Linked DNA regions of Homo sapiens: all the other regions are linked to region 3. Evidence: fine-mapped expression QTL. A gene starts in region 3. Each other region holds a variant in brackets. All regions are shown on one strand. Distances are between the middles of the regions. Region 1 overlaps RABEP1 (rabaptin, RAB GTPase binding effector protein 1). Region 2 has its middle 110 kb from the start of NLRP1. Region 3 holds the start of RABEP1 (rabaptin, RAB GTPase binding effector protein 1). Region 4 has its middle 18 kb from the start of SCIMP. Region 5 overlaps RABEP1 (rabaptin, RAB GTPase binding effector protein 1).

Evidence for each region. PIP is the estimated chance that this variant, and not a neighbour inherited with it, causes the effect. A credible set is the group of variants that fine-mapping cannot tell apart.
Region 1: its variant is the best candidate, but not a certain one, in a credible set for the expression of RABEP1 in vagina (GTEx, PIP 0.89).
Region 2: its variant is the best candidate, but not a certain one, in a credible set for the expression of RABEP1 in tibial nerve (GTEx, PIP 0.82).
Region 4: its variant is the best candidate, but not a certain one, in a credible set for the expression of RABEP1 in non-classical monocytes (Schmiedel 2018, PIP 0.62).
Region 5: its variant is the best candidate, but not a certain one, in a credible set for the expression of RABEP1 in esophagus muscle (GTEx, PIP 0.58).

Annotation. Positions count from the first base shown.
Region 1 is chr17:5,370,052-5,374,051 of GRCh38, reverse strand. It overlaps RABEP1 (rabaptin, RAB GTPase binding effector protein 1), which reads right to left. Exons shown (of 18, transcript NM_004703.6): 13 at 598-738. Among named protein-coding and RNA genes, the nearest start is that of NUP88, 48 kb to the left of the region's middle. The variant A/G (reference allele first, on the strand shown) is at 2,400.
Region 2 is chr17:5,691,975-5,696,687 of GRCh38, reverse strand. No RefSeq gene overlaps it. Among named protein-coding and RNA genes, the nearest start is that of NLRP1, 110 kb to the right of the region's middle. The variant C/A (reference allele first, on the strand shown) is at 2,521.
Region 3 is chr17:5,279,810-5,284,403 of GRCh38, reverse strand. It overlaps RABEP1 (rabaptin, RAB GTPase binding effector protein 1), which reads right to left and starts at 2,120. Exons shown (of 18, transcript NM_004703.6): 1 at 1,884-2,120. The coding sequence starts at 1,917. RefSeq lists a silencer at 1,681-2,400.
Region 4 is chr17:5,250,353-5,254,698 of GRCh38, reverse strand. No RefSeq gene overlaps it. Among named protein-coding and RNA genes, the nearest start is that of SCIMP, 18 kb to the right of the region's middle. RefSeq lists an enhancer at 1-181. The variant G/A (reference allele first, on the strand shown) is at 2,075.
Region 5 is chr17:5,376,645-5,380,644 of GRCh38, reverse strand. It overlaps RABEP1 (rabaptin, RAB GTPase binding effector protein 1), which reads right to left. Exons shown (of 18, transcript NM_004703.6): 14 at 3,340-3,529; 15 at 2,413-2,468; 16 at 183-281. Among named protein-coding and RNA genes, the nearest start is that of NUP88, 41 kb to the left of the region's middle. The variant A/G (reference allele first, on the strand shown) is at 1,951.

The sequences.
Region 1 (4,000 bases), 90 kb before region 3:
TGATGGTGAGTGTGTTATAACTTTTCAAGTACTAGATACAAAAACAAACGTCATAAGCAGCCAGCATGGTAACCCCTTCAAACATTTAATTTCTGGCACACTCTCAATCTGGGCCGACAAAAATAACATAGATCTTCAAAACATTAAGGCTACGTGAAAGAACATGGACACAAAAGACCACATATCGTATGATTCTATTCATAGGAAAGTCCAGAATAGGGAAATCTATAGAGGCAGAAAGGTTAGTAGTTGCTTAAGGCTAGGGGAGGAGGGGGAATAAGGATGGTAGCTAAAGGGCGAAGTGTTACTTTTTCGTGTGTGTGTGTGTGTGTGTGTGTGTGTGTGTGTGTGTGTGTGTTTAGCTGGTGTAGTCGGGTCACAGGGAGTTACTACTTGAGGTGATGAAAATGTTCTAAAATTGATTGTGATGATGGTTGCACACATCTGTGAGTACAGCAAAAACCACTGAATGGTACATTTTAAATGGTTGAATTGGCACGTGAATTATATCTGAATAAAACTGTTTACATAAAGAACATACGGCCATTTCAGAAAACGTACTTGTTGACATTTTTGATCATGTGGAAAGTAAGTTACCTCTGTAGTGTCTGGGAGGATGAAGTCTTCTGCTTGCTGTAATGACACATGCAGGCTGTGCTTTCCCTGGAGACTGTCATTATCTTTCTGTAACCTCACCAGCTCTTCTGAAACCTGTTCCCGTGACTGCATCAGCACCGCCTAAAATAGAAGTAGATACTAATCACAGCCAGAAAGGTAGATCCGGTCTGGTGATAGCTACACCAGAGAAAAACAAGTCCAAACTAAAGGAGTGCTGAGGATGGACGGGGTATGGTGAAGTTCTGCTAGACTTAGAAAAAGCTGCACAGAGATTTTCTGGTTTACAGCATATATTCAACAAGGGACAGGCAATGAAGCAAGTATCTGAGGCTCATTCTCCACTGTTTCTACAAACCGCTTAAAAATTCTATCTTTTGGTTGGGTGTGGTGGCTCACGCCTGTAATCCCAACACTTTGGGAGGCTGAGGTGGGTGGATTGCCTGAGCTCAGGAGTTTGAGACCAGCCTGGGCAAAACAGTGAAACCCTGTCTCTACTAAAATGCAGAAAGTTAGCTGGGTACAGCGGGGTGCCTGTAATCCCAGCAACTAGGGAGGGAGGCTGAGGCCGGAGAATCGCTTGAACCCAGGAGGCGGAGGTTGCAGTGAGCCGAGATTGCACCGTTGCGCCCATCCTGGGCCACAGAGCAAGACTCCATCTCAAAAAAAAAAAAAAATTAATATTTTCCCTCCATATCCCTGTACTACAGAAGGACCAGGATCTCTAGTTCAATGGAAGTGGCTGACACCATCAAGACCTATATCAGACAGAGCATGTACTCTAAGACAACTCCCATTTCCCCATGGCGTGCACTGGACAGAAAGGAGGGAGAAACAGAGTAGTGTCTTCATTTCCTATTATGTATACCTCTGTTTAGGCTCGGAATCACTGTGAATGGCCCAGCAGGCCCAGATACTGGAAGTCATCAAGAGCATCTAAGCTCAGGAATCACAGAGCACTTGAGAAGCTTATTCTTTTTTTTCTTTTGAGACAGTCTCGCTCTGTAGCCCAGGCTGGAATGCAGTGGTGTGATCTCGGCTCACTGCAACCTCCACCTCCCGAGTCCCGGTTCAAGTGATTCTCCTGCCTCAGCCTCCCAAGTAGCTGGGACTACAGGCACGCACCACCACGCCCAGCTCATTTTTTTGTATTTTTAGTAGAGGCAGGGTTTCACTATGTTGGCCAGGCTGGTCTCAATCTCCTGACCTCGTGATCCGCCCACCTCAGCCTCCCAAAGTACTGGGATTACAGGCGTGAGCCACCGCACCCAGCCAGAGAAGCTTATTCTTAAAATGGGACACACTCCCACTTCTGCTTGTTGATGTGTAAAACAATTTTAGGTATTTCATATTATTTGTATCAATATAAAAGTTATCCACCAAATCCGAGTATCAGATAAAGCTCTACAAAAGCACGTGACTCCTGCTAATCTGTAGTACTAAAGTCACTTACCTTAAGGGCACACATACATGTAGATGATGCTCTCATACGATGTTTATTGTGCAGCTACTACTCTATGCCACGTGTTTTGCTGCCCACAGGAAATACAGAGATAAAAGACAAAGACTTTGCCCTGGAGAAGCTCATGGTCCAATAGAGGAGAAAGACAAGTAAACCAAAAACTACTCTACAATACCATAAACTGCTATGACAGAGATTGGGTACTGCAGTGATAAAAGGACAAAGGGGTACCTAATTTGGGGCAGGAAATTGGGAAGAGGGTTAAAGAACACTTCCCAGAGGAGGCGATGACTGAGCTGCATTCTGAAGGACAAACAGGCCT[A/G]AGACAGGCAGTCACGGCCATGCATATGCTCTGGCTAAAGCCCACTGGCTCTTATTGTCTTCAGACTAGAATCCACTGTGCTTTATGATCACTGTCACCCATTTACAACAAAATCTTAGTATCCCACCACCTTCTGGATATGAAAGAAGGGAAAAAAGAATATGTATATATTTGCTTGTTTTTGTAAAGAGAAAAACAGAAGGATAAGCCAAAAATAAATTAAAATAATTACGTATAAGAGTGAGTGGAAATGGGGTGAAAAGGACAGGGAATGGAAATGGAGCTGAGTATTTATTTTTATACTTTTGATTATGAACCATGTTACATATTCAAAATATAAATCAAGAAAGAAAAATCAAATCTGAAAATGTAATATAAAGAGAAACAGCCCAGGCGCAGTGGCTCACGCCTGTAATCCCAGCACTTTGGGAGGCCGAGGCGGGTGGATCACGAGGTCAGGAGATCGAGACCATCCTGGCTAACACGGTGAAACCCCGTCTCCACTGAAAAAACAAAAAATTCTCCAGGCGTGGTGGCGGGCGCATGTAGTCCCAGCTACTCCAGAGGCTGAGGCAGGAGAATGGCGTGAGCCCGGGAGGCGGAGCTTGCAGTGAGCCGAGATCGCGCCACTGCACTCCAACCTGGGCGACAGAGCAAGACTCCGTCTCAAAAACAAAAAAAAAAAAAGAGAAACAAATGGAGCTAACTATATATCAAATTCCTAATACAACCACAGAGAGAAAAACTAACATTTGAACACAGTACTTAAACTGTAAACCCTTATCTGAGATACAGTCTAAGGGCAGAACTACAAAGAAATGTTGGCCTTTACTTAGTAGATTTGCTGTTGGTAGTAATATTGATATAGTCATTCTGAAACTATTTTGTCCCCACCTTAACCGAGTGATCAAATTTAACATCCCCAGTAATGGAAGCACCCATCATTAACGTGCCTCATTATGTTATGAACCTCCCATTGAACCATTTCATCTGTGCAGTATTCTTGCCAAGATGTCTAACCTGAATCAAATCACAAGGAGATAATCAGACAAATGAATTCTACAAGACAGATGGCCTGAAACAAAGCAATTGGCCGGATTCTTAAAAATAAAAAGAGAGTGGGAGACTGTTCTAGATGAAAAGTGACTAAAGCGACATGGCAACAAGATGAAATATGTGATCACTGATTGGTTCCTGGATCAAAATATAGAAAATATAAAAAGGAAAACCACCACTAAAAAGTAATCAAGGACTTACTGGGACAACTGGTTAAATTTTAAGGATGTAATAACAGTACTGTAGCGATGCAGAACAACTCTTTGTTTTAGGAAATACATACTAAAATACTTACGACTGTCATGTCTACAATAACTCCAAACAGTCCAGCAAAAAACACAAACCAAGACATACGTACACACACACATCATATACCTACAAACATACACAGAAAGACTAAGAACAAGGGCAAGCATGCACTAACGTGGTGAGTTTCTCTTCTTTATGGTAATTTCAACAAAATGGTCATGTACTGGAGTTCATAGGACCTCAACCTTAATTTCAACAGTTCTCCAGTGTCACTGACACACATTCATTTTAAGTGA
Region 2 (4,713 bases), 410 kb before region 3:
CATGCTGAGCCTCAATATTCCAGAAGCCTGGGCAGGTGCATGGGGGCGGGGGTAGGCCAGAAGGGAGACATTGGGGCCCCCTTTGGACCAATATCAGAAAGGCATGAAAGAGACAGCTGGTCTATAGAGTGAGTGACTAAGTCCAGCAGTGTCTGGATGTCTGCAAGGACCAGAAACAGATATTGGCAAGGAGATTCTCAGAATCTCTCAAGGAGGACCCAAATGCTGAAATTCAGGCTGGGATGCTACATTCACCAGCTGGAATATCACCAGGTATCCAGGATCAGAAGCACTTCCTGGTCACACACAGTCATCTTAGAGATGTACCTCAGCCCAGTGTCTGTGTTCAGGCCACCTTGCCTCCTCTTTACTGAGCCAAGCTTCCCCAAAGTTCTCCAGGAGAAAGTCTCTCCCTTGCAGATCTCCAGACCCAGGCGTCCTTCACAGGGCTGCCTTCCCTGAGTGACAGGGGCCTGCCTCAGCTGCCACCACTTAAACAGCTCCAGCGGAAGCCTCTCATAAGACTTGACCAAATGTGCTTTAAGGTGGAGATTACAAAAACAACCCACAACATACCAGCCCAGCAAACAGACATCCTGGGAATAACCAAATTGGTGGCTCCCAGCAGCTCTGCCCTCTCATTGCAGCCTGGGTCCCTGAATCCTCCCAGAACGAGGGTATATTCGTCTGTTTTTATACTCCTATAAAGAACTGCCTGAGACCGGGTAATTGATAAAGGAAAGAGGTTTGGTTGACTCACAGCTCATCATGTCTGGGGAGGCCTCAGGAAACTTACAATCATAGCTGGGGAGGCCTCAGAAAACTTACAATTATGGCAGAAGGTGAAGGGGAAGCAAGGTACCTTCTTCATAAGACAGCAGGGAGGAGAAATGCCAAGCAAAGGGGGAAGAGCCCCTTATAAAACCATCCGATCTCTTGAGAATTCACTATCGTGAGAACAGCACAGGGGAAACCACGCCCATGATCCAATTACCTCCACCTGGTCTCTCCCTTGACACATGGGGATTATGGGAATTGTGGGGATTGTAGTTCAAGATGAGATTTGGGTGGGGACACAAAGCCTGATCATATCATAGGGTAAATGGTAAAACTAGCCTTCTTGTTACAGCCATATAGCACAAAGTTTATGAGCCCTGTTGCTGGGTCAGGCTGCCTGGGTCCACAGGCCAACTCCCCCAGTCACTGGTTGTATGAAAGTGGGAAAGTTAATATCTCTGTGCCTCTGTTTCCTCATCTATAATATGGAGAACATAACAGTACTAGGGTTATTGTGAAGATAAATGGAGTTGATAAACGCAATGTGCTTAGGACAGCAGTTGGCCTAAGGTAGGCTCATGGAAGCGTTGGCTGTTCTTATTATACAAGAGTCTTGGGGAATGCCTTGGAGTGCAGTTTGGTTCTCCTGTTTTTATTGGGCCAAGCTTGACTATGTCTAGACCACGCGTTGCTGGCGTTACATTCCAAGTGTGCCTACTTACAGGATCGCATGGGATGCAGCTACAGAAACTGTGCTTGGCACAGCCATGATTCCTGCTCCCAGGGATGTCCCAGACCAAAGAAAGACAAAACTGCCTCCTCTCATATTTATCTGAAGAACCAGAGTAAGCACGTATCATTATTTGTTTTACAGTCGAGTTGAGTCAGACAAGAGAATACACATATATTTATTCTGAAAAAGGAACAGACTTCCTTGAAGGGTCCACCAGAGCCAGTAAAAAAGACTGATGTGTTAGGTATTTGGAAGAAGAAAGGAAGCTGGAGATTAAGTGCAGCAAGAGGCATTTTAATGTTCCTAGTAACTGATTTATAAATTCCTTGTTAAGGCTCTGCTCGCTTGATTCTTTGCCGTGAATATAGCATCACCATTTTTCCATTTTATAGTCTTGGCGGGAGATGGCCTTTTGCGGAGCTGCCACTTAAAGCACTTAACTGTGCCCCGGGGCATCTTGGGAAAAGGCTGATGGTAAGAGCCTGTCGTTGCCCCAGGGGAAGAGCTGTCCCCAGTGCAGTATGGGCTTAGACAGGCCCCTCCCTCTCTCGTTGGGCTCCAGCCCCTCCTCCTCCCCTGCTCTTCCCTTCCTCCCTTCCGCCTCTTCAGAGCTTACCTGCACTCCTGGGAGTCTGGAAACTGCTCCTGCAAACCCCCAGCCCTTGGCTTCTTCCTTGAATAACCAGAATTTCATTCCCATCTTTGGGAAATACCATTTCAGGCTGCTTAAGTTATGATTTAAAGCAGGATAAACCCAAGCCGATGACAACTTTTGGAGGGTTTTTCATTGATCATTTCTTCTGTTACTCTCTTGGCCTGAGTGATGACAAATGAATAGTTCTCCAGGATCCTTTTCTACAAGCAGCGCCTCCCTAAGCACGCTTCTTCTCAGAGTGGAGAGTGGAAGTTCAACTTCGAGGTCAGACAGACCTGGCTCCAACACTTACTCACAGATGGGAGCTTCTCCAAGTCTCAGCGTCCTCACCGGTAAAATGGGGACATGATTAACA[C/A]CTGCCTCAAAAAGCTCTGATGTTATTCCATAACTTCTTGCAAGGAAGGCGAGGCCGGCAAGCCGGCTGTTACCATCATGGGTCACCTGGCTGAGTCCAAACAGGGCGTGTTAGCCCGAGCCCTTGGCGGAGACCCAGGCATCAGATCTGTAGCTCAGCGTGGCTCATGGTGAGGGTAGCAAGGGCCCCTGGGGGAGCCACCCACCTTGTGCTGGGCACTGAGTCAGTGACTGAACCCAGGCTGGGCACACAGAGGGCCTGCTTCTCCCACCTGAAGGCCAGCTGGTAAAGCAGAAGCACATGGATATTTGAGTCAAAAAGACCCAGGTTCTTATTAAAAACAAAAATAAATATAATAAAATCAAAATAAGAGAGTTGTCAGGGTGTGGTGGCCTGTAATCTCAGCATTTTTAGAGGCTGAGGCAAGACAATTGCTCGAGTCCAGGAGTTCAAGACTACCCTGGCCAACATAGCAAGACCCCATCTCTACTGTTGAAAAAATGAAAAATAAAAATAAAAGCCAGTCTCAACATTTCAGCATTACTTTTACCCCTCCCTTCCCCTCTCCTTTCCTCTCTTCTCCCTCCTCCCTTCCCCTCCCACCTCTCTCCCCGACTCTCACTCCCCTCAGTGCCCCAGCAAATAGAAGGGTCATAATATTATTGGGGTCATCAAATAAGATAATGGATATAAAGGGACTCTGTCAACTCTAAAGCACTTTATGAATATTCACTTTGATGGAAGAGTCCTCTGGGGATTTCTATGGTTGGGGGAGCCTGGTTGGCACTAAACAAGAAGAGCAAAACTCTCTCTTCCTGCTCTCGAGATGACAGCATTGGGGCCTCATCATATTAGAAAACAAAACCCAGGCTGGGAGGTGAGAACCAAATCCCAGTCACCACAGCAATTGGGCTGGTCAGCTGAGGTCACCCTGTCCTTTCACATTGGAATAAGATTGGCCCAAGCACTGAATCCTAAGATGTCTCTGAGTTCTCAGGGGCTCAAAGTCTGGGGATTACTTTCAACTCTGCATTGTAGCTTCAAATTCCGGCTGGCGTTCGTCTCAAAAGTAACAGCTAACATTTATTAAGCTGTTCAGAGTGCTTTGTGCGTATTAGACCATCCACTCCTCACAACCCCCTGTGAGGTAGAAATTATTAACCCCATTTAACAGATGATGGGAATGGGGCACAGAGAGGCGAAGTAACTTGCCCGAGGACACAGAGCTAGGACACTAACTATGGCAGCCAGGCACCAGCGCCCAAGCTCCTAACCTCCAGTGCCTCTATCTCATCACAATTTTTTTTTTTTTGAGACAGAATTTTACTCGTGTGACTCAGGCTGGGGTGCAGTGGAGTGATCTCAGCTCACTGCAACCTCCACCTCCCAGGTTCAAGCGATTCTCCTGCCTCAGCCTCCAGAGTAGCTGGAATTACAGGCATCTGCCACCACACCCGGCTAACTTTGTATTTTTAGTAGAGACGGGGTTTCACCATGTTGGCCAGGCTGGTCTTGAACTCCTAACCTCAGGTGATCCGCCCGCCTCAGCCTCCCAGGGTGCTGGGATTACAGGTGTGAGGCACCACGCCGGGCTTCATCACATTTTAACTCCCATGCGCTACTCCACTCCAACCTGGGCAACAGAGCGAGACTCGGTCTCAAAAAAAAAAAAGAAGCAACTCAAGTGTCCATCTTTATCCAATGAACGGATAAAGAAAATGTGGTTAATACATATGATGGGATATTATTGGATGTAATTAATTAATTACTTAATACTAATGGAATATTATTCACCCTCCATTCAGTGCACCTCCTCTCACTTTATTATGCCAAGCATTCAGTCCTAGCCCCGTCAGGACCCAGCGCTTGCCCTTTCAGGCCAAAGAGGCAAAAAATGGCATGACTGTGGCCTCTGCAGGAGTCCTCCATCCACATAGAGCCTGGTCTTGAAATTTCATTCTTCCCCTTCTCCCTCCCTGACCTTGTAAGTGGAAGATCAGGATTTATTTTCCCACTGAGATAGACTGTGCCCACCCCATCAGAGGTTCCTACAGTGGGATTTGGTGTGAAATGACACATTTTTTCACCCTTTTTCACAAGATATCATGTCTGTCTACAAAACTGTCTCTGGACTGGGCAAAATGGATTAAATCAATGGGGTGTGAGCAAACCAGTAAATAGTGTGGGAGGAAA
Region 3 (4,594 bases):
TCTCTCCTACTGTAAAAAGTAGCCATGGCTACCTACATTAATTTAAAATAAAAATTGCAATCTATGCAAACTAAATCTCATCCTAGAGTCACAAGATTTGAGAAATAGGAAAGAAACCTGAACTAAAATACCAAGAATACAAGATTTCCTAAAGCTAGTTTTCCCTAGCCTCGTTCAAGTGCTTAGTCACTTCTGCCTATTTACAAGGAAGACCATTTCATATCTTCAAAGAGGCAGGGAATTTTGATTCCAGACGGTCATGTCACCTGAGCTGCCCTAGACGTTTCTTTCCATGCAACTCAAGAGAAGGCAGCAGCCAGCTATGCATACCTACCACTCCTGTTCAGAACCACAAGCTCTCTGTATCTTGCCTCTGTGTGCAGTAACAAAGTGGGATTGTGGAAGAACAAAGTTTTCTTGCCTGACACCAAATGCAAAAGGTGATCATTAAAATGCAGCCTGAAGACATCCCAGTTTCCTCTCTCTGACAGCCCACCAAAAATGCTTCCCTTCCCTTCTCCTGGAACAGAAACAGCAAAGCAGGTTCTTATAAAAGTCTAAATGCTTACTGGACATCTCCCCTTAGGCAAGCAACAACACCCAAAACTACAGGCTAACAGGCTCTGAAGCACATTTCCCAGAGAGCAGCCAGAACCTTAAAATCTGATAACATGGTTTCAAGTTCCCCAAAGGCAAAAATAAAAAGTAAGGGTTTCACGAAAGGTTATTTTGAGACAACCCCAAGGAAAGCCAAGTTTTAAAGTACCTACTCCGTACCAAGCCCCTTTTCCCAACATTCTACTCTACTCACACTTAAAGATGCTAAGCACACACGCTGATTATAGAAATACACCAGAAAGTACTTTCACAACTAGATACAGTGGGACCTTGGAAAAGCCCAAGCACACTATTTCCAAACATCTATTCTAGGTGGTAAAACCTGGAACCATGTAGTCAATCTGTGAAGCACAGCTTAGTCCAATTTCCCAGAAGGTCACGAAGGGCTCTGACAACCAACTTTGATTATTTAGGATGGGGCCCTTTTTTCCTTCCAAGAATATAAATGACACATTTCTTCGACTTCACTTTTTTTTTTTTAGTTCCACAAGCAAATATCTTCAAGTAGTGCAAGTAGGCCTCAGCATTCTCAAACACTATTCTCATTATTCCTAATACCTCCATAATACTATTATTGTATATACACATTCGTGTTGCTATTTTTATAGATAAAATATAAAGGCATGAATTAACCTCTTGGTTAATTCGTGGGTGAGAATACTGAGGCTCAACGAGGCTAAGAAATGAGCCCAGAGCTTGCTGGTTAAGAATACAGGTCCTCTAGACTCCCAGGCCCCAACACTTAACCATTAAGCCACACTGCCATTCAGGGAATGCTACTAAATCCAGTTACTGTACACAACTACTTTCAGGTCACATAACTGGGTGCAAAGAGTTCTATAGCAAGGATTGGGGCGGCAGGGAGGGTACACTACCTAAGCTAAGATTTTTTTTCTTTAACGAATATAGCACATGTTCCCGATTTCCATCCTCCCCCACGGGCAGAACCCACGTGCCGGTCCCCCGCTACCCAGAACCGCTCCCTCCCCACACTACCCCACGCTACCCAGCAGCCTCCCCACGCCCTTCCCTCTGCCCTCCCGCAAGCGCTGCACCCGCGCCTCCCGCCCCCTCCCCAGCGACGGCAGCCGGGGCGCCCGCGCCGCCCTCGCGCGCCGCAGCCCGCGCGCCCCCGCCTCCGCCCGGCGGGGTCACCCCCGGGGCCTGCGCGCGCCCTTGCCGCCGCCTGCCCGCCCCGAAATCCTCCCGCGACGCCGACGCCGGGCAGGCCGCGCCCGCCGCGCCTGCCATGGTGGGCGCCTCACCGTCAGGCTGGGAAGCCGGGCCCGGCTGCGCCATGACCAGGCGGCCGGCCTCGGGGAGCGGGGATGGGCGGGGAAGCGGCGTCCTGGGCTCCCGCGGGCTCAGCTGGCGGAGGAGGCGTCAACCGAGCCGCCGCCGCCGCCGCCCAGAGAGAAACCGCTAAGGCTGGATCCGCCGGCGCCGCCACAGCCGCGGGCAGAGACGGACCCGACCGCCGACCTCCGCCTCCTCATCCTGACAGCGGGAAATAAGCAGTGCGCAGGCGCAGGGGGATGGGGCGGCACGTGACGTTGGCCCGAGGGGAGGGGCGGGGCCTCGGGAGCGCGGAGGGAGCGCGGAGGGAGCGCGGAGGGAGCGCGGAGGGAGCGCGGAGGGAGCGCGGAGGGAGCGCGGAGGGAGCGCGGAGGGAGCGCGGAGGGAGCGCGGCGGGAGGGGAGGGTTTCGGCGGAGCTGGGCGCCTGACCCAGCGGCGCGGGGAGGCTGAGTGCCGAGCGGAGCTGGAGAAGAGGGGCTGCAGCAGAGGCCTGGCCTCTCGAAGGTGCCGGTCCCGGTTCTCCACCCCAGCACAGTGAGGGGAAAAAAAAAAATGAGTAAGAGAGGAGGACCGATGGCGGGGTGCAGTTCCAGCCTCTACCTCTTCTAGCTTTGCGACCTTGGGAGAGTCACTTCACCTCTTGGAATTTTTATCAATATAATGGCTAAGAAAAGTTTAAACGAGGTAATAAAGTATGAAGAACTGTTTCCGACAGTACTGGGCCTGGACCCCAGGTCTTCTGGTGCAGAGGCCAGTATACTATCCATTCAGCAAATACGTTTGGGTTTTCAGTCGTGATAGATGCTGGAGATACAGCCAGGTACAGACCCTGCACTCATGGCAGGAAAGGAGAAATCATATACACAAAGTGTGGCCCTTATACTTGGGCCCCTGGGCCCTATACTTTAGGAACTCCCCTCTAATCACCACTCCCCGTCTGATTTCGACACCTGGAGTGCCCCATGCCAAGGAGGTAGTTTAAAAAGCTTTTTTTTTTTTTTTGGAGATAGAGTCTCACTCTGACACCCAGGCTGGAGTGCCATGGTGCGATCTCGGCTCACTGCAACCTCTGCCTCCCGGGTTCAAGCAATTCTCCTGCCTCAGCCTCCCGACTAGCTGGGACAACAGGCGCACGCCACCACACCCGGCTAATTTTTGTATTTTTAGTAGAGACGGGGTTTCACTATGTTGGTCAGGCTGGTCTCAAACCCTTGACCTCGTGATCCGCCTGCCTCAGCCTCCCAAAGTGCTGGGATTACAGGCGTGAGCCACCGCGCCCGGCCTAAAAAGCTATTTTGAAATCAGAGAGGAGCATCAGGAATTATGTACATTTTAAGACCCAGCAATCCCACCCCAGGATGAGGGAGTCCACAGGGTTTGGCACTTCAGGACCAAGTTCTGAATACTTGTGGCCCCAGAATTCCCTTTCCAGATGGCTGAAGCTGTGGTCTCTTTCCCAGATCCATTCTCTCTATGGCAGAGTCTAGACATCCCTAAAAGAAGCTAAAGTGAAAGCATAAAGAATGAGTTCATGTCCTTTGCAGGGACATGCATGAAGCTGGAAACCATCATTCTCAGCAAACTAACACAGGAAAAGAAAACCAAACACCTCATGTTCTCACTCATAAGTGGGAATTGAATAATGAGAACACATGGACACAGGGAGGGGAACATCACACACCGGGGCCTGTGGGGGGTGGGGGGAAGGGGAGGGAGAGCATTAGGACAAATACCTAATGCATGCGGGGCTTAAAACCTAGATGACGGGTTGATAGATGCAGCAAACCACCATGGCACATGTATACCTATGTAACAAACCTGCACGTTTAGCACATGTATCCAAGAATTTAAAGTATAATAAAAAAATAATAATAGGCCGGGCACAGTGGCTCACGCCTGTAATCCCAGCACTTTGGGAGACTGAGGCAGGTGGATCACGAGGTCAGGAGTTCAAGATCAGCCTCTCCAAGATGGTGAAACCCCATCTCTACTAAAAATACAAAAAATTAGTCGGGTGTGGTGGCAGGCGCCTGTACTCCCAGCTACTCGGGAGGCTGAGGCAGAGAATTGCTTGAACCCAGAAGGCGGAGGTTGCAGTGAGCCAAGATCGCACCACTGCCAGCCTGGGCGACAGATCGAGACTCCATCTCAAATAATAATAATAATAATCAGAAAATCCACTAATTAGAATCAGTTTCTACTTTCTTTAAATCATTTGTTTTAAATAAGGTATACTTTTATTAAAATGATTATTTCTCACTGAAAAAAAGGGAGGCTAAAGGGCAGCTTTGTTTTATTTTAAGGGGGTGACACGACACTTGGGTGTTTGAGCTCCTATGTCCACAGATCCCTCATGGTGCAGGACAGAGGTGAGAAAAGAAGGCAAGTGAGCCAAGAGACAATAGTTGGGCCAGGGCCTGTGCTGCTTTCGCCACCTCATTCATGGGCATAACTCCCAGGAGCCCAGGAATTCTAAATTTAAACCTGGTCTTCCAGGTCTTAAACAGGTAGATTTGTCCAAGTAGAAGGATAGACTGTATTAAGGTTAGCGGTTAATTGGAGTAGTTTGTAATTTTATTTTATTTTATTATTTATTTAATTTTTGGAGACGGAGTCTCTCACTCTATTGCCCAGGCTGGAGGGCAGTGGCACCATCTCAGCTCACTGCAACCTCCACCT
Region 4 (4,346 bases), 30 kb after region 3:
TAGTAGGTACCTTGCAAGGAGCTCCTGCCCACACTCCTTTCTTTGGCATCCAATCCATTCCAGATCCTGCTGACAGTGTTGGCTTCCCACAACCCACTCCTTTCTGAAATGCTCGGGTGCTGGCCCATCACCGGGGGATCGTCTACACCCCTCCGTCTGGCTTCTGAGTTCTCCATGTTCTGACTGACACTCACCCTTCCCAACCCCAGGCTCACCTTTCTTTCTTTTTTTTTTTTTTGACAGCTTTATTGAGTTATGATTGACATGAAATAAACCGCACCCATGGCCAGGCGAGGTGGCTCGTGCCTGTAATCCCAGCACTTTGGGAGGCTGAGGCGAGTGGATCACAAGGTCAGGAGATCGAGGCCATCCTGGCTAACATGGTGAAACCCCGTCTCTACTGAAAATGCAAAAAATTAGCCGGGCGTGGTGGCATGCGTCTGTAAACCTAGCTACTCAGGAGGCTGAGGCAGGAGAATTGCTTGAACCCAGGGGGCAGAGGTTGCAGTGAGCTGAGATCGCACCATTGCACTCCAGCCTGGGTGACAGAGCGAGACTCCATCTCAAAAAAAAAAAAAAATCAACTGACTATATATGTGCAGGTCTATTGCTTGACTTTCTTTTCTGTTTCACTGATCTATTTATGTATTACCTGCAACAATAACACATTGTTTTTTTTACTGTAGCTTTATGAGAATTCTTGAATCAAGTAGTAAGTCCTCCAACTTATTCTGCTTCAAAGTTATTTTGGCTATTCTAGGTACTTTGCATTTCTAAATAAATTTTAGAATCAGCTCATTCTACCAAATAAAGCCCACCAAGGTTTTGATTGGAACTGTGTTGATTTTGTAGATCAATTTGTGGAGAATTGAAATCTTACCAATATTGAGTCTTACGATCCATGAATATGATAGAACTTTCATTTATTTTGATTTTCTTTATTTCGATTTTCTTTATTTCTTTCTTAATTTTTTTTTGACAGAGTCTTGCTCTGTCACCCAGGCTGGAGTGCAGTGGCATGATCTCAGCTCACTGCAACCTCCGCCTCCCAGGTTCAAGCAATTCTCCTGCCTCAGCCTCCCCAGTAGCTGGGATTTCAGGCACGTGCCACCATACCTAGCTAATTTTTGTATTTTTAGTAGAGACGGATTTCACCATGTTGGTCAGGCTGGTCTCGAACTCTGACCTCAAATGGTCCACCGGACTTGGCCTCCCAAAGTGCTGGAATTACAGGTGTGAACCACAGCATCCGGCCCTTTTAGTACTTTTTAAATGTTGCTTTAGCATCTTCTGCATCACATTAACTCCCAAAAAGAAGATTGCTGTCATTTTTATATTTGTTTTTTTCTCTGGCTGCTTTTATATCTTCTCTTCATTGCTGTTTGTAAGTAGCCCGATTAAGATGCACCTTGGGCTGGGCGTGGTGGCTCACGCCTGTAATCCCAGCACTTTGGGAGGCCGAGGCGGGCGGATCATGAGGTCAGGAGATCGAGACCATCCTGGTTAACACGGTGAAACCCCGTCTCTACTAAAAAAATACAAAAAAATTAGCCGGGCATTGTGGTGGGCACATGTAGTCCCAGCTACTCGGGAGGCTGAGGCAGGAGAATGGCGTGAACCCAGGAGGCGGAGCTTGCAGTGAGCCGAGATCGCGCCACCGCACTCCAGCTTGGGTGACAGAGCGAGGCTCCGTCTCAAAAAAAAAAAAAAAAAAAAAGATGCACTTTGATTAGTGTTCTTCATGATTCTTGTGCTTTGGGTTCATTGAGCTTGCTGGGTGGGTGTATTATCTACGGGTGTATCATTCTCATCAAGTTAGGAAAAATTTTTCCCTTATTTCTTTGAATATATTTTTCTGTACCTCCTCCTTTTGGAAATGGAGTCTCGGTTATTGGAAACTCCAGTTACACGTACATTAGGCTTCTGGAAGTTATCCCCCAACTCACTGTCATTTATTCTCAGCCGTTGTCTTTCTCTGTATTTCACTTCAGATTACTTTCTTTTCCTTTTTCTTTTTTCTTTCTCTCTTTTTTTTTTTTTGAGAAGGAATTTCACTCTTGTTGCCCAGGCTGGA[G/A]TGCAGTGGCGTGATCTCGGCTCACCGCAACCTCCACCTCCCAGGTTCAAGTGATTCTCCTGCCTCAGCCTCCTGAGTAACTGGGATTACAGGCATGCACCACCACGCCCGGCTAATTTTGTATTTTTAGTAAAGACTGGGTTTCTCTATGTTGGCCAGGCTGGTCTCGAACTCCTGACCTCAGGTGATCCGCCTTCCTCGGCCTCCCAAAGTGCTGGGATTACAGGTGTGAGCCACCACGGCCCGCCCGGATAATTTCTATTACTGTGTCAAATTCATTAATCTGTGGTCTGCAGTGTGTAATCTGCTGCAAATTCCATTCAGTGTACTTTTCATCTCTAGAAGAGATAGATGATAGATACACTCATATATACATACATAGTCTATCAGTATCTATATATCTTCTATGTCTCTACATAACATGCTCTTGTCCACTAATCTCATCATCTCTGTTATTCCTGGGTCTGTTGCAATTGATTTTTCTCTTCATCATGAAAGTATTTTTCAGATTTATTGAATACTTGGTAATTTTTCACTGAGGGATGTTATTTTAGATAAAATCAAAGCCTCTCTGAGGAGGGCAACATTAGGTTGGAAAATAAGAATAGTTGACCCTTTAACAACACAGGGGTTAGGGGTGCCAACCCCTGGTGCAGTTGACATCCCACATGTTATTGGTAAGGCTTCTGGTCAATAGTAGGCTTAACTGCTAATAGCCTGCTGTTGACCAGAAGCCTTACCAATAACATTAACAATCGATTAACACATTTTGTATGTTATATGTATTATATACTGTATTCTTACAGTAAAGTAAGATAGAGAAAAGAAAATGTTATTAAGAAAATCATAGGCCAGGTGCAGTGGCTCACACCTCTAATCCCAGCACTTTGGGAGGCTGAGGCAGGCAGATTACTTGAGGCCAGGAATTCGAGACCACCTGACCAACATGGCAAAACTCCATCTCTACCAAAAATACAAAAATTAGTCGGACATGGTGGTGGGCTCCTGTAATCCAAGCTATTTGGGAGGCAGAGGCAGGAGAATTGCTTGAACCTGGGAGGCAGAGGTTGCAGTGGGCAGAGATTGCACCACTGTACTCCAGCCTGAGCGACACAGCAAGATTCCGTCTCAAAAAAAAAAAAAAAAAAAAGGCCAGGTGCAATGGCTCATCATACCTGTAATCCTAGCACTTAGCACTTTAGGAGGCCGATGTGGGTGGATCACCTGAGGTCGGGAGTTCGAGACCAGCCTGACCAACATGGAGAAACCCCATCTCTACTAAAAATACAAAATTAGCCGGGTGCGGTGGCGCATGCCTGTAATCCCAGCTACTCAGGAGGCTGAGGCAGGAGAATCACTTGAACCCGGGAGGCAGAGGTTACAGTCAGCTGAGATCACGCCATTGCACTCCAGCCTGAGGCAACAAGAGCGAAACTCTCTCAAAAAAAAAAAAAGAAAGAAAGAAAAAGAAAAAAGAAAATCATAAAGAAGACAAATTATATTTACTATTCATGACATGAATATTTAAGAATATTTGTTTTATTTTTTTACATTTAAATTTTAACTAAAATCTGGAATTAGTTTTGATGTGTGAAATATGATTCCAATTTTACCAACGAATTTTTTTCCCCTTCCGCCAGCACTTGGCAACCATCATTCTACTTTCTCTTTGTATGAATTTGCCAATTTTAGGTACCTCAATATAAGTGGAATCATACAATTTTTTTTTTTTAAAGACAGAATCTCGCTCTGTCACCCAGGTTGGAGTGTAGTGGCACGATCTCAGCTCACTGCAACTTCTGCCTCCCGGGTTCAAGTGATTCTCCTGCCTCAGACTCCTGAGTAGCTGGGATTACAGGCATGCACCACCATGCCCAGCTAATTTTTGTATTTTTAGTAGAGACGGGGTTTCACCATGTTGACCAGGCTGGTCTCAAACTCCTGACCTCAAGTGATCTGCCTGCTTCGGCCTCCCAGAGTGCTGGGATTACAGGCGTGAGCCACCGCGCTCAGGCACAATGTTTATTTTTTATGTCTGGCTTGCTTCACTTTAGTATTGCATCCTCCAGATTCATTCCTGGTGTCGCATGTACCAGAACTTCCTCTCTTATTAAGGCTGAATAATATTCCACTGTATTTTTTTTTTAATTGAGATGGAATCTCACTCTGTCACCCAGGCTGGAGTACAGTGGCGCGATCTCGGCTCACCGCAAGCTCTGCCTCCTGGGTTCAAGCGATTCTCCTGCCTCGGCCTCCCAAGTAGCTGGAATTA
Region 5 (4,000 bases), 97 kb before region 3:
AGATTTAACCCAGCTGGAATAGATCAATTCGTTTAAGTTTTTTCTTTTCACAAGCTGTCAGTTTTGCCAACTTTTTAAAAGGTGACACTTCAAAGCACCAATATTTTTTTTTCAACAAGCAAGATGTGATCCTGCATTCTTAGCCCTGCTTTTTAAAATTAAATGACTAATGAAAACACTACCTTAGCAGCAGTCTCTTTCTTTAACTGCTCTTCCAAACTGATCTTTATTTCCTGAAGACTCTCAAGCTGTTGAGACTTCTCTCTTAATGTGGACTCCAACTGTGAAAAAGGAAAAAGCTGAAACTCACAGAAACTCCCTCTGGGCCCCAGTGCACTACCTAAAAGAGCCTAGAGCCTGGAGAATTACACCAAGACACTCGGGCTACACTGGGAATACTCCTCTCACCCTTTCAGCTCTGTGGATCCCCTCTGTATTCTTCCTGAACTATTCTTTCATTAACCATTATTAGGTGCCTACTATATTCTAAGGCCTCAAAATGGAGAAATCAGGGTAAACAGACATGTAAAGGATGAAGAAAGAAGCATTTAATTCTGCCAGAAAAGTTACAAAGGACTTCCTAGAGGAGATGACATTTGACTCCTACATTTTTACAGGGCAAAGACAAGGGTGACAAGGGGAGAAGATGGAGAGATACTCCAATAAGAGGGAATGGATGGCACGCACTAAAAACACATGCAGCAACAGTGGCATGTTCGGCTGGCCTACAGCACAGCACGTTGGGAGCCACAGGCACTGAGGCAGAGAGGTGTGAGGCAGGAGAGCTCTGGCTGGGCTAAGGATATGGACTTGATCCTGTAAAATAAAGGGAACTACGGGAGGGCTTTCCACTAGACTGGGACGCGAACAAGTTTCTAATGTTTAAATATCACCTTGATTTCAATATGGAGATGATTTAGGGACAAATTTTGGAGGCAGGGAAAGTTAGGCTGTTACAATAAGCCAGGTGAGAGTGAAGTCTGAACTCAAAGAGTGGCAGCTAGAATGGAAAGGATGAGATGTTATTTCGAGCGCTGGTAATTTCTGCTGGTGCAATATCAGTAGCAAAGTGGAGGCAGGAGGCAGACTGCAGCAGGTGGAGGGATGCCTGGGAAGTCAGGCAGTGATGATGATCAAGACTGTGGCAACAGAGGGAGGAAGAAAGAGTGGTAGCTCGGGAGAGGAGTGCAATCCAAAGACAGACTTTTTCCTTCTGAATATGAGACACCTGAGCCTGTTCATGCATAATGGAAAAGATCAGTCAAGAGGCAGAAGTTCAAGGCCCGGCACTGCGCGGGGACATCTGGAAAAGTCGGAGATACTCAGTCAAAGCACCTATGCAATGACACTGTGGTCAGAAGCAGGTCATGATATTCTCTGAAGAAAAAGAAAAGACTGGGAATAAAAGGAAAACCTGTAATTGAGGAGCCCAGTAGCTGAAGGTGGCCCTGCCTGATGCCTGAGGAGTGAGGCCAGCATCTGCTGAGAGTGAGGGGGCTGAGGTGAGGTGACTCTGAAACTGCCACTGTGAGGAATGGAAGAGACGCAACTTAGGACACATGAAAGGCTGCATGAGGAACACTGGAGGCCCATCTGGCAGCTTGAGCATGCAGTGTCACCAAGTCTCGTGGCATCAGCAGCTGGGGACAGCAAGACTAGTCCAAGGTTGGGCAGTGGTCAGGTGAGGGCAGCAGCAGGACAAGGAGTCAAAGACCATAGGGACAGGTGTGGTGGGAGATGAAGGGAAGAGGCAGGCCAGTAAGATGCAACCTAGGGGAAAGAAAGCAAGCCATGAAGCTGCTGAAACCAGAATGAAAGGGGAAGTTCAGAGAACTGGAGGTCTGAATGAGGTACTCCGATGGAAGAGCTGGAAGGATGGCAGATTGTGGTCAAGGAACTTAAGGCTGCAGTGAGATGTCACAGTTGGGCAAAATGCAGCCCAGTGTGTGG[A/G]AGGGGAGAGCAGGGTGGAGGTGAAAATCTCTAAATCAAGGAACAGTGAGGTCAGGAAGTTGAATGGGGTTACTATGAAAGGAACTAATGATGTCTAAGAGGACTAAGCCAGCTAGAAAATGTCATCTCTTGTTTGTAATGTTTTTTATACATATTTCTACTGTACCTCTAAGCATATAACATGTTATGACCATGCCTTGCCTATCTTCTCACTACACTGGAAACTCCAGGCCACAGTCACATCTTAGCCTTACCTCCTCCAGTTTAACGTAGCCTGACACACAGGGCACTCTCAATAAATCACCAGCACACCCTTACCCCGTGGTTTTCTTCCCACAAGACAAAAGTTCCTTAAGGCAGGGCCCATGCCTTAACTATTTTTTATTCGTTGGGTGCAGCATAGTAGGAGTCAGTAAATAACCACTGGTTGCTGATAGAATTAATTTGAAACTCACGACTTACCTGTCCTTTTTCCACTTTTATTCTTTCTAATTCAGCTTTTAGGCTAGAAATAGAAGCTAGAAGGAAAAAAATGAGATGTATTAGCATTCATCTATTATTGTGCATGAACATTTTTTTCTTTAAAATTTTAGAGCACCCCCCAAAGGATTCAAATGTATGCTGAACATGGGTTCCGGGGGCTGTCTCAAAATTACCACCAAGCAATCAGCATATTTAGGCTCAGGGAAAAGCAGGATCCATGCAAATGGACACTGTGTCATAAACTACCTCTAGATCATGTATCACATCTCTGCAGGGAAATGCCACCCATTGAATCACGTTCCCCTGGTTCTGGGTTCAAGTACTGAGAATCCTATCTATGAATAATTGCCAAAGAGGCCACAGAACTCCTAAAAAGACGAGTTTTCGGCCAGGCGCGTTGGCTTACAACTGTAATCCCAGCATTTGCAAGGCCGAGGCAGGCAGATCACCTGAGGTCAGGAGTTCGAGACCAGCTTGACCAACATGGAGAAACCCGTCTCTACTAAAAATACAAAATTAGCTGGGTGTGCTGGCACACATGCCTGTAATCCCAGCTACTCGGGAGGCTGAGGCAGCAGAATTGCCTGAACCTGGGAGGCAGAGGTTGCGGTGAGCCAAGATCGCGCCATTGCACTCCAGCCTGGGCAACAAGAATGAAACTCCGTCTCAAAAAAAAAAAAAAAAAAAAAAATTTTTTAAATAACCAGAATTTCTGATTATTTGACTATATCAGAATATATATTCAGAATCTGAATATATCAGAATATCTACAAAAAATGGACTGAGTCCTTACTAAATTCTTTCCTAAGCTTTTCTGTGTTCCAGACTCCATGGCCATGTATTGCTTCTTTTACTAAAGTTTTATTTAGTGACTCTAATTCTAAACTACATCACTTTTATCTTCACCTATTTCCTCCTTGCAGTTTTCTATTTCTAGTTGCAGAGTTTCTTCAAGATTTTCTTTTAAACACTGTTCTGCTTGGATCTGCTCTTTTAGGAAAAGTATCTCAGCCTTCAGCTTTTCTTCTACGTGGTCTGCTGCTGTCCGCACATTAATGATGTCCTCACGGTATTTTAATACCAACTCCCGCAGTGCCTGGATTCAAGAAACAAATGATTATTGGGTTTGTGAGAGTGAAAGGAAATAAAGAAGCTAAAGATTTTCTGTAACCAGAATCTCAGATGTTGTTTTAATGGTTCAAAAATTAAGACTTTGACCATTAAGCCACTTAGAGCTTCAGGGCAGGTGCCATGTCAGGTTAACATTCAGTATGTTATAGAAAAGACATTTCTGGCCAAGTCGTATCTTGTAAGCCACATACTCTTCCCTCAAAACTGTTTCATAAGCAGAAAAATAAAAAGATTAAGTGACTTACAATATGCCATTCAATAGAAATAATACCTTAGAATCCTCTACTATTACTTGCAGAAATTTGGGAGGAGTTAGGAAATGAAGACAAAACTGAGTAGCAAGTTCACACTCAGTAGCAAGTGTGAACTAAGAGGATAACATTTATTTACTTACTCACTTATTCATTCATTCAAACATTTACTAAACATCTACCAG